Homo sapiens: one gene and its partner. The protein of the gene in region 1 interacts with the protein of each later gene in a pairwise test. Each region holds a gene or a part of one and is shown on either strand. Other genes may lie near its edges.

Region 1 (3,910 bases):
TATTTGAACTCAGCCAATCTTATAAATACAAATCAGTACACTATCTCAAGTTTGTTAATTTCAAGAGCAGTAGGAGAAAACAACAGATAACATATGTTATATATCTCATCCTATCCCTCAATTCAAGATTCCAGAGGAATTCCTGCATTTTGCTATTGTATTGAGAAGCTTGTGGATAACTTAGAAGCATCAGCCACAAATATGTTGGCACAATGTAGTAATAGGATTCCACATTCTAACTGCAACTTTAAAACACAAGGTAACAAACAGCTGGATGCAACATACATACCTTTTGGCGCATAAAAACTAAGTAAAAATAGATTATATATATAGTCCTTATTTTATTGATACCCTTTCAGTTCTATTAACTGAGAACTTAGAAAGTCCCTGAATTTAGTATAAAGTAACTTTGAAAAATATATTCTAATGTGAGGATAAATTTTAGAATACACAGATAATTATAATTTCATTTTACCCAGCATTTTCCATTTCCTTTCCAGAAGCTTTCACCAAAAATTGCTACTAAATAGACAAAACATGTTTCCTTTCATCTTTTTCCCTTCCTACAAGGCAAAGAAAAAGGAAACAGGTAGAGGCAATCCACCACTTCGGCAATCAGTTCACTGTATATTTTTAAAATAAAGTTACTTAGTGAAATGCTGGGCCAGGCACAGTGGCTCATGCCTATAATCCCAGCACTTGGGAGGCCAAGATGGGCAGATCCCTTGAGCCCACGAGTTTGAGGTGAGCTTGGGCAACATGGCGAAACGTCTCTACAAAAAATACAAAACCTGGCCGGGCGCGGTGGCTCATGCCTGTAATCCCAGCACTTTGGGAGGCCAAGCCAGGTGGATCACCTGAGGTCAGGAATTCGAGACCAGCCTGACCAATATGGTGAAATCCCCTCTCTACTAAAAATACAAAACTTAGCTGGGTGCGGTGGTGTGCGCCTGTAGTACTAGCTAAGGCAGGAGATCTGCTTGAACCTGGAGGCGGAGGTTGCAGTGAGCTGAGATTGCACCACTGCACTCCAGCCTGGGGGACAGAGAGAGACTCCGTCTCAAAAAAAAAAAAAAAAAAAAAAAAAATTAGCCAGGCACAGTATTCCCAGCTACTCGGGAGGCTTAGACTGGAGGACTGCTTGACCCCTGGAGGCGGAGGCTGTGGTGAACTGAGATCGTGCCACTGCACTCCAGCCTGACTGACAGAGCGAGACTCTGTCTCAAAAAAAACAAAAAACAAAACAACAACAACAAAAAAACAAAGGCCGGGCACAGTGGCTCACGCCTGTAATCCCAGCACTTTGGGAGGCCGAGGCAGGTGGATCTCGAGGTCAGGAGATCCAGACCATCCTGGCTAACACAGTGAAACCCCGTCTCTACTAAAACACAAAAAATTAGCCAGGTGTGGTGGCGGGCGCCTGTAGTCTCAGCTACTCGGGAGGCTGAGGCAGGTGAATGGCGTGAACCCTGGAGGCGGAGCTTGCAGTGAGCGGAGACCGTGCCACTGCACTCCAGCCTGGGCGACAGAGTGGGACTCCATCTCAAAAAAAAAAAAAATCCAAATTATTTACTAGAGTTTTTAATGGATGCTCACTTCCTTTATTCAGTCTATCTGCACAACAGTTAAAAACATTCAATCCCCCAGTACCGGAAAAAAAATCACAAGTTATGAAACCAGAATTCAGCTAAAATTTAAAAGGTCTCACTGATATATGTATATGTGTGTGTGTATGTATGTGTATATATATACACATGTATAACTACAAAAACATAAAGTAAAAGTAATTACAAGTAAGCTTTAGGAAATGGTTTGATATAAAACTCAAACTCACAAGATTAAATAATTACTCTCTATGGTCAGAGAGACAGATTTGTAACTCAAAAGAACATTTCTAGTATGCAGGCACCTCATACACAATCTAAGTAATTTTTTTTTTTTTGACAGTCTCACTCTGTCGCCCAGGTTGGAGTGCAGTGGAGCGATCTTGGCTCACTGCAACCTCCGCCTCCCAGGTTCAAGCGATTCTCCTGCCTCAGTCTCCCAAGCAGCTCGGATTACAGGCACCTCCCACTACGCCCAGGTAATTTTTTGTATTTTGAATTGTATACTGATATCACAGAATATACTCCTCCTGTACAATAAAAATCAGATGGAAATTCTGTAACTCATGTTGTAAATATTTTTATTTTAGGGAATTTAAATTAAAAAAAACTGGTACATTTCCCCCACATTTTCATTTTTTCCTGTTTTAAGGTTCTTTGGAAAGTTTTAAAAATTTTGACCCTCTACTGATTCAAAGGAAAAAAAATCTTTCTAAATTACTGCTTAAATAATCAGTTGCTACTGTACCCTTGATTTGACCAACATTAGGAATAAATAGTCCAATGTTATGAAATACGGAATGTAAGTGATACTATTTTTTGTTGCTGGTGAATTTTAAAAAGTGATGTTTTTAAGGCAGCACAAAAGTTCCTGATAACTTTTCTTGTTTAAAATAGAAACTCTCCACGACCAAAGAGACTTGTTTTAGAATCCAGTGCTCAACTGGGTTCAAAGTACAACAGATTACATACAAATCAGTTTTTACTGCAAATGGATAAATTCATCTATTCTTTGTAGCTACTGCTTCCACTGTGCTTATGAGATTTACAAAGAACTTAAGACCTCAAATGGCAATTAGTACCTTTCAATACCATTGCAAAATAATCTATGAACACAGAAAAACACTAGCTTCCAGAGCCATGGTACAGTACTCCTGTTTACAGATGGCTGAACTAAAAATTTTGTCCAATGTTACAATGAATCACTGCATCAGCCAAAATGTCTTAACTTGTTCTAAAATTCAATTCAATTTGAAAAGGCTAACAAAAACTTCAGCCTAATCTCTTAGACCATGGAGTCCTCAATAATGACAGGAGGGGGAAGAAAACCCAGGGCATATTTTTAGTCACAACCTATGTCTCAGAAAGTTTAAGACAGACCAATCTTTACCTAACTTTTCTATAGAGTGAACACGTGACATCACTGCTATAAAACAGCAGTAAATAGCTAATTCATAAATGCTAAATTACTCCTAGTGCCAGTCAAATCTAGAAACTGCAGATCAATACCCAACCTCCTCTTTAGCAACACAAACATACAGAGAAACACAGTTATTTTACATCTTTAAGGAAATGAGGCAAATCAGTAAGATCTGTGTGATAGTCGATAATAAAACAGCCTATTTAAACAATACTTATGGGGAAAAAGTAAATGGACACCTTGTAAAATCGGTCAAATTCTCTGTATCAGATCCAATTTCAGATTAGTTTCACTACCTCAATAAATATTTATCGAGTACCTACAACAAAAGGCAAAAAAAACCTGAACGTGAGCTTTTCATCCAAATCTTGGACTGCATTTAAAATAACATGTCTAATCAGTTACCATGTTATCAATCTTTGCATAGACCTTCCACCAATCTTGAATTAGATAGGAAGATACAATTGAAAGGATCCTTACAAAAATGGATCTAGTTATTTTAATAATTAATTCTTTGCTATACCCTCCTTACATGGTAGCTCTTTATTATGGGAGGGGGTCACTTTACCTTTATACAGCTAAGAGAAAATATTGGAATTCTGAAAAGGATTGAGGATAAAACGAAAATTAATTTGTCAAGTAAAAGGGATTCCAAAGCCAATATGTAAATGTTTCTTTTTAAAGGATTACACTGTTCTCTTCAAATATCCTCTCTTTGAATGTTCATTACCATTAATCCCTAAATTCAAACGCTAACCATTACACTGTGCCCAGGCAACGCGCTACACTGTGCCCAGGCAACGCGCTAGGAAGATTACTGTGAAGAATGAAATGGATTAAGTCCCTACCCTCATGGTACTTACATTTAACTGGTGTTGAATGTCTA
Region 2 (3,910 bases), on another chromosome or scaffold:
AGGAGAGGGGCCTCCTGAGACCCCTGCCAGGCAGGCACCTTGGGAAGAAGAGAAGAGGAGAGGGCTTTGCCCAAGCAAGCTGGGAAGGTCCCAGGGTGAAAGCACCATTATGGTGCTCCACGGGACAACCCTCCCTCCATGGGAAGGGGTGGCAAGGCAAGCCTAGGACTCTGGACCCTCTCCTCAACCTGACCCAGCTTCCAGCCACAGGCACCCTCACCTCCTGGCAGCAAAGGGGAGCAGGTCCACATGGACCACTCCACCACGGCGTTCACCCTTCCTCCTCTCCACCGCTGTGGAGATCTTCTCCCATCAAGAGTCAGAGTACCACGATTCTAGACCTTGCTGAAGGTGACTAGGTGACCTCAGGCAGTTCATTTAGCCTCTCCGAGCCTCAGTTTCCTCACCTGTGCAATGGAGGCTTCAGCGCCTGCCCTGAAATATTGCTGTGAAGGGGGAAATTGCTCGTGCCACCTGAGGATTAATCATTACCCTGGAACCCTTCCCAAGGCCATCAAGGAACACGCACCCCTTACCAGACCTTCCAGCTGCTGGGGGCTCTCAGAGTGAGGCTGAGGTCATGGAGAAGGGAATGGGGGGCCCCCATGGCCAGCTGGACCTGATCACTGCCTCCCCACTCAGCCACAGCCCTCAGGGCCCTGTGCCAGTCCAGAAGCCCATTCAGGGACACCTTTGGCCAATGTTCTGTTTCATCTGCGAGGCAACCTTCCCCAGTGCCCCAACCATAGCGTTTTCCCCCAAACACCCTCAGGAAGGAGGGACCACTACCTGTGCAGGGGGGGCCAGGAGCCTCCTGAGAGCCTCATATGGGGAGGAAGTGGTACCATCTCACCCCCATTGCCTTTCTCTCCTACTTCCACCTGGCCAGCTTCCCTCAGTGCCCCTCCTGCCTCAGTGCCCCTTCCCTCAGTGTCCTTCCTGCCTGCCGCCCCAGGGGCCTGACCTCTGACTTGGCAGGGAGGGGAATGGAGCCCGGGGACAGAGGCCAATGAGCCCTGAGAACAGTGGATGTTCTTCCTGACCCCACCACCGGGCCTGTGCTATGACCCCAACAAGGACTCCGAGGGCATGCACAGGCTGGGGTCTGTTATGGTAGGGAGGGGGCCGCTCACCTCCGGAGACTGTGTGTGTGTGCAGGTGTGCGTACACAAGGTTTCTTCCCCAAGCCCAGGCGCCCCGCAGCTGGCACCAAACCCTGCAGGGCACGGAAACCGCCCCGTGAATTCCCACCGAGTCCTCAGATCCTGCCGAGCCAGGGGAGGCGACGAGGGGGCGCCCAACTTCGTGACGCGTGTGCCCCGCTCTGCCGCGGGGGTCAGGGACAGGGGAATGCGTCCTGTCTCTGGGGATGCAAGGACATCACCGCCCTCCCCGCTCAGGGTCCTTGATCTGAGGCCCCCACTTCCCTCCTCTGAGGACAGGAGCGCCACCCTCTGGGGGGCGCTAGGGCTTGGGCCCCTCCCCAGGGATGGAGGAAACGCGCCCACTTCCCACAGTCCCTCCTCTAAACCCCAGGCGCCCCCACCTCGAGGTGGGCGGAAAACTGGACTCCCCACCCACCCAGGGGGGTGGGACCAAAGCCCCCTGGCCGCGGCCTGGACCAAGTCCAACAGGCTGGGGGTTCAGCCGGCTCAGTCCAGGCCTCCCCCCACTTCTCCAGCTGCTGTCAAGACCGGGCTGCGCGAGCCCAGCTGCGCCCACCCCTCGCCCCTGGAGACCCGGGTCCCCCACGCGTTCGCCCCCACCCTCCGTCCCCGCCCGCCCGCGCGGGGTCTTCGCTGCGAGCCGACGGGAGTCTGGACACCTCTGTCCCCTTCCCCTTTCCAGGGCCGCAGCCCTGGCGGGGCGCACTCACCCAAGGGCCTGGGCCGGGGGCGTCCTGGGCTCGGCACTCTGGTGCCCGCGGCCGCCGCTGCAGCTCTGCTCAGATGCGGCCGGCGCTCGCCGCCGCCGCAGTTCGGGGAGGGGGACGTCACATGACCGCGGAGCGCTCCTTCCCCGGCGCCGCTCCCCACTCACTGCGGAGCCCAAGCCGCGGGCGCGGGAGCGGCGGGGAGGCCCCCGCCCTGCCGCCCCGCCCCGCCGCAGGTCCTGGAGGAGGGTTCTCGGTGCCCCCATTTTACAGGTGGGGAAACTGAGGACCAGAGAGGGGCAGGGACTGGCTCAAGGTTACACAGCTAGACAGTGGCAGAACCTGGGCGACAGCCCAGCTGTCCAGGCAACAGCTCATGCTCCAAGGGGACTGGGACAACTTCTGGATCAAGTGGAGACGTCGGGATAGGTGGGGCCCACGGCCCCCATGGGCTCCGCTTGTCTGCAGGCGCGGGAGGAAGGCGCACAGGCTTCGCTGGGCGAGAAAGCTGCTGTGCCCTGGCTGACGCCCTCCTCACCCGGGCGCTCGGCGCGCTTCCTGGCAGAGGCCACGCGGTTGACCCTCGCCAGCCCATTCGCGGCTCTTGGACTTTGTCTCTGGACTGGGCAGCTCGCCCCCGCCCCAGCCTAACCCGGGCCCAGGGCGGGTGTGGGGAGGGGAGCCACAGGCTACGGAGAAGTGGAAGGGAGGCACCCGGAAGAGAGTGGGATCAGAACAAGAGTGAAAACCCAGGCAGGGAGGGGGCGGCAGAGATCACCTCGGCCTGACTTCCAAGGCCCAGGGAGAGTTAGAGACTTGCCCAAGGTCCACAGCAAGTGAGCGGCCTGCCCACTCGAGTCCCTTCTTTGATGGTCAACAGAGCCTGAGGCTCCTGTGCCCCACTCCCCACCAAGGGGGAGCCCTCACCCACACCTCTTTCTGTTCTCCACTGAGCTCCCTCCCCGGGGAACAGCCCACATGAAGCAAAGAAACACGCAGTGGGTCGGCAAGGCCAGAACTGGGGACAACGGGTGAGGGGTATGGTTGGTGGCTCCAAGGTCATGAACTCGTCACAGAACACTCGTGTTCCAGGGGGATCTCTGAAATCTCTGGATCTCACCCCAATGTTCTAAGAACTGGGAAAACAGGCTGCAAAAGGTACAAAGACAGACCTCTTTCTCAACCATTTCGAATTGGTGGGTCAAGCCGACAGGGCCCTCCAAGGTCAACAAGTCCAATAGGCCCACTTGACAGATAATATTTAGGGAGGGGAAAGTCCAAGACATGTACTCAATATATTTCTTGAGCATCTACTGTGTGCTTAAAACCACAACTGTTACTTCCAGCTCCCACTATTTTCCCGGCCACATGGGCTGCATTTCACAAAAGGAAAGATCCGAGGTCTTCAGCAACTCTTACATCAGCCTCTGGAGGATCTGAGACATGCAAGCCTCCGGGTTTTCAGTCCCATAGGGGCTGGGGACCAGAGCCATGTTTTCCGGTCAAGACTCTAATCCCCGTGGAGAAAAGGTGAATAAGGGGGAATAGCAGGAAATGCCCCACCCTCTTCCCACGCATCCACCCACCTGTGAAAGGGCAGAGGGGAAGGTAGATCAGGCACTTGTTCTTTTCAGTCCTCCCTCCAGCAAGCTTCCCTAGCTGTATATGGGAAAGAGACCCCAGCCCAGGGGGGTTTCTCAAACTTCTAAGAGTGCAGGAGCGGTCTGTAGACTCAGATTCAGATTCAGTGGGCCTGGAGCCTGAGCTCCTGCATTTATAATGAAGCTTCGTGGCTGCAGACATCCTGAGCAGCACTGGTAGTACAAGGCAAGTTGTCAGGGCAGGAGGAAGACTCCTGCGGTATCACATGCTCACTCATGGACCACCCAACCCGGGGGGCCCTTTGATCTCCTGCCTAGGAATACACCAGGACTATATAGTTGGCTCAAACACTGTAATAAAAAGGCAAGAAGTTGAATGAGGCTGGCCGAGGCGCTTCTGGGGATGATGGTGAAGGGACTGTGGGGCATAGCAACT

The links.
Region 2: the proteins of RAP1B (region 1) and RAP1GAP interact in binary tests that used the Homo sapiens proteins (3 or more experiments, as listed by UniProt).

What each region holds. Positions count from the first base shown.
Region 1 is NC_000012.12:68,613,617-68,617,526, reverse strand, and holds part of RAP1B (ras-related protein Rap-1b isoform 1 precursor), read right to left. Parts: intron 1-3,910. UniProt on the Homo sapiens protein: GTP-binding protein that possesses intrinsic GTPase activity. Contributes to the polarizing activity of KRIT1 and CDH5 in the establishment and maintenance of correct endothelial cell polarity and vascular lumen.
Region 2 is NC_000001.11:21,667,378-21,671,287, forward strand, and holds the start of RAP1GAP (rap1 GTPase-activating protein 1), read right to left. Parts: upstream 1,981-3,910; 5' UTR 1,877-1,980; intron 1,217-1,876; exon of another isoform or gene 1,134-1,216; intron 447-1,133; exon of another isoform or gene 221-446; intron 1-220. UniProt on the Homo sapiens protein: GTPase activator for the nuclear Ras-related regulatory protein RAP-1A (KREV-1), converting it to the putatively inactive GDP-bound state.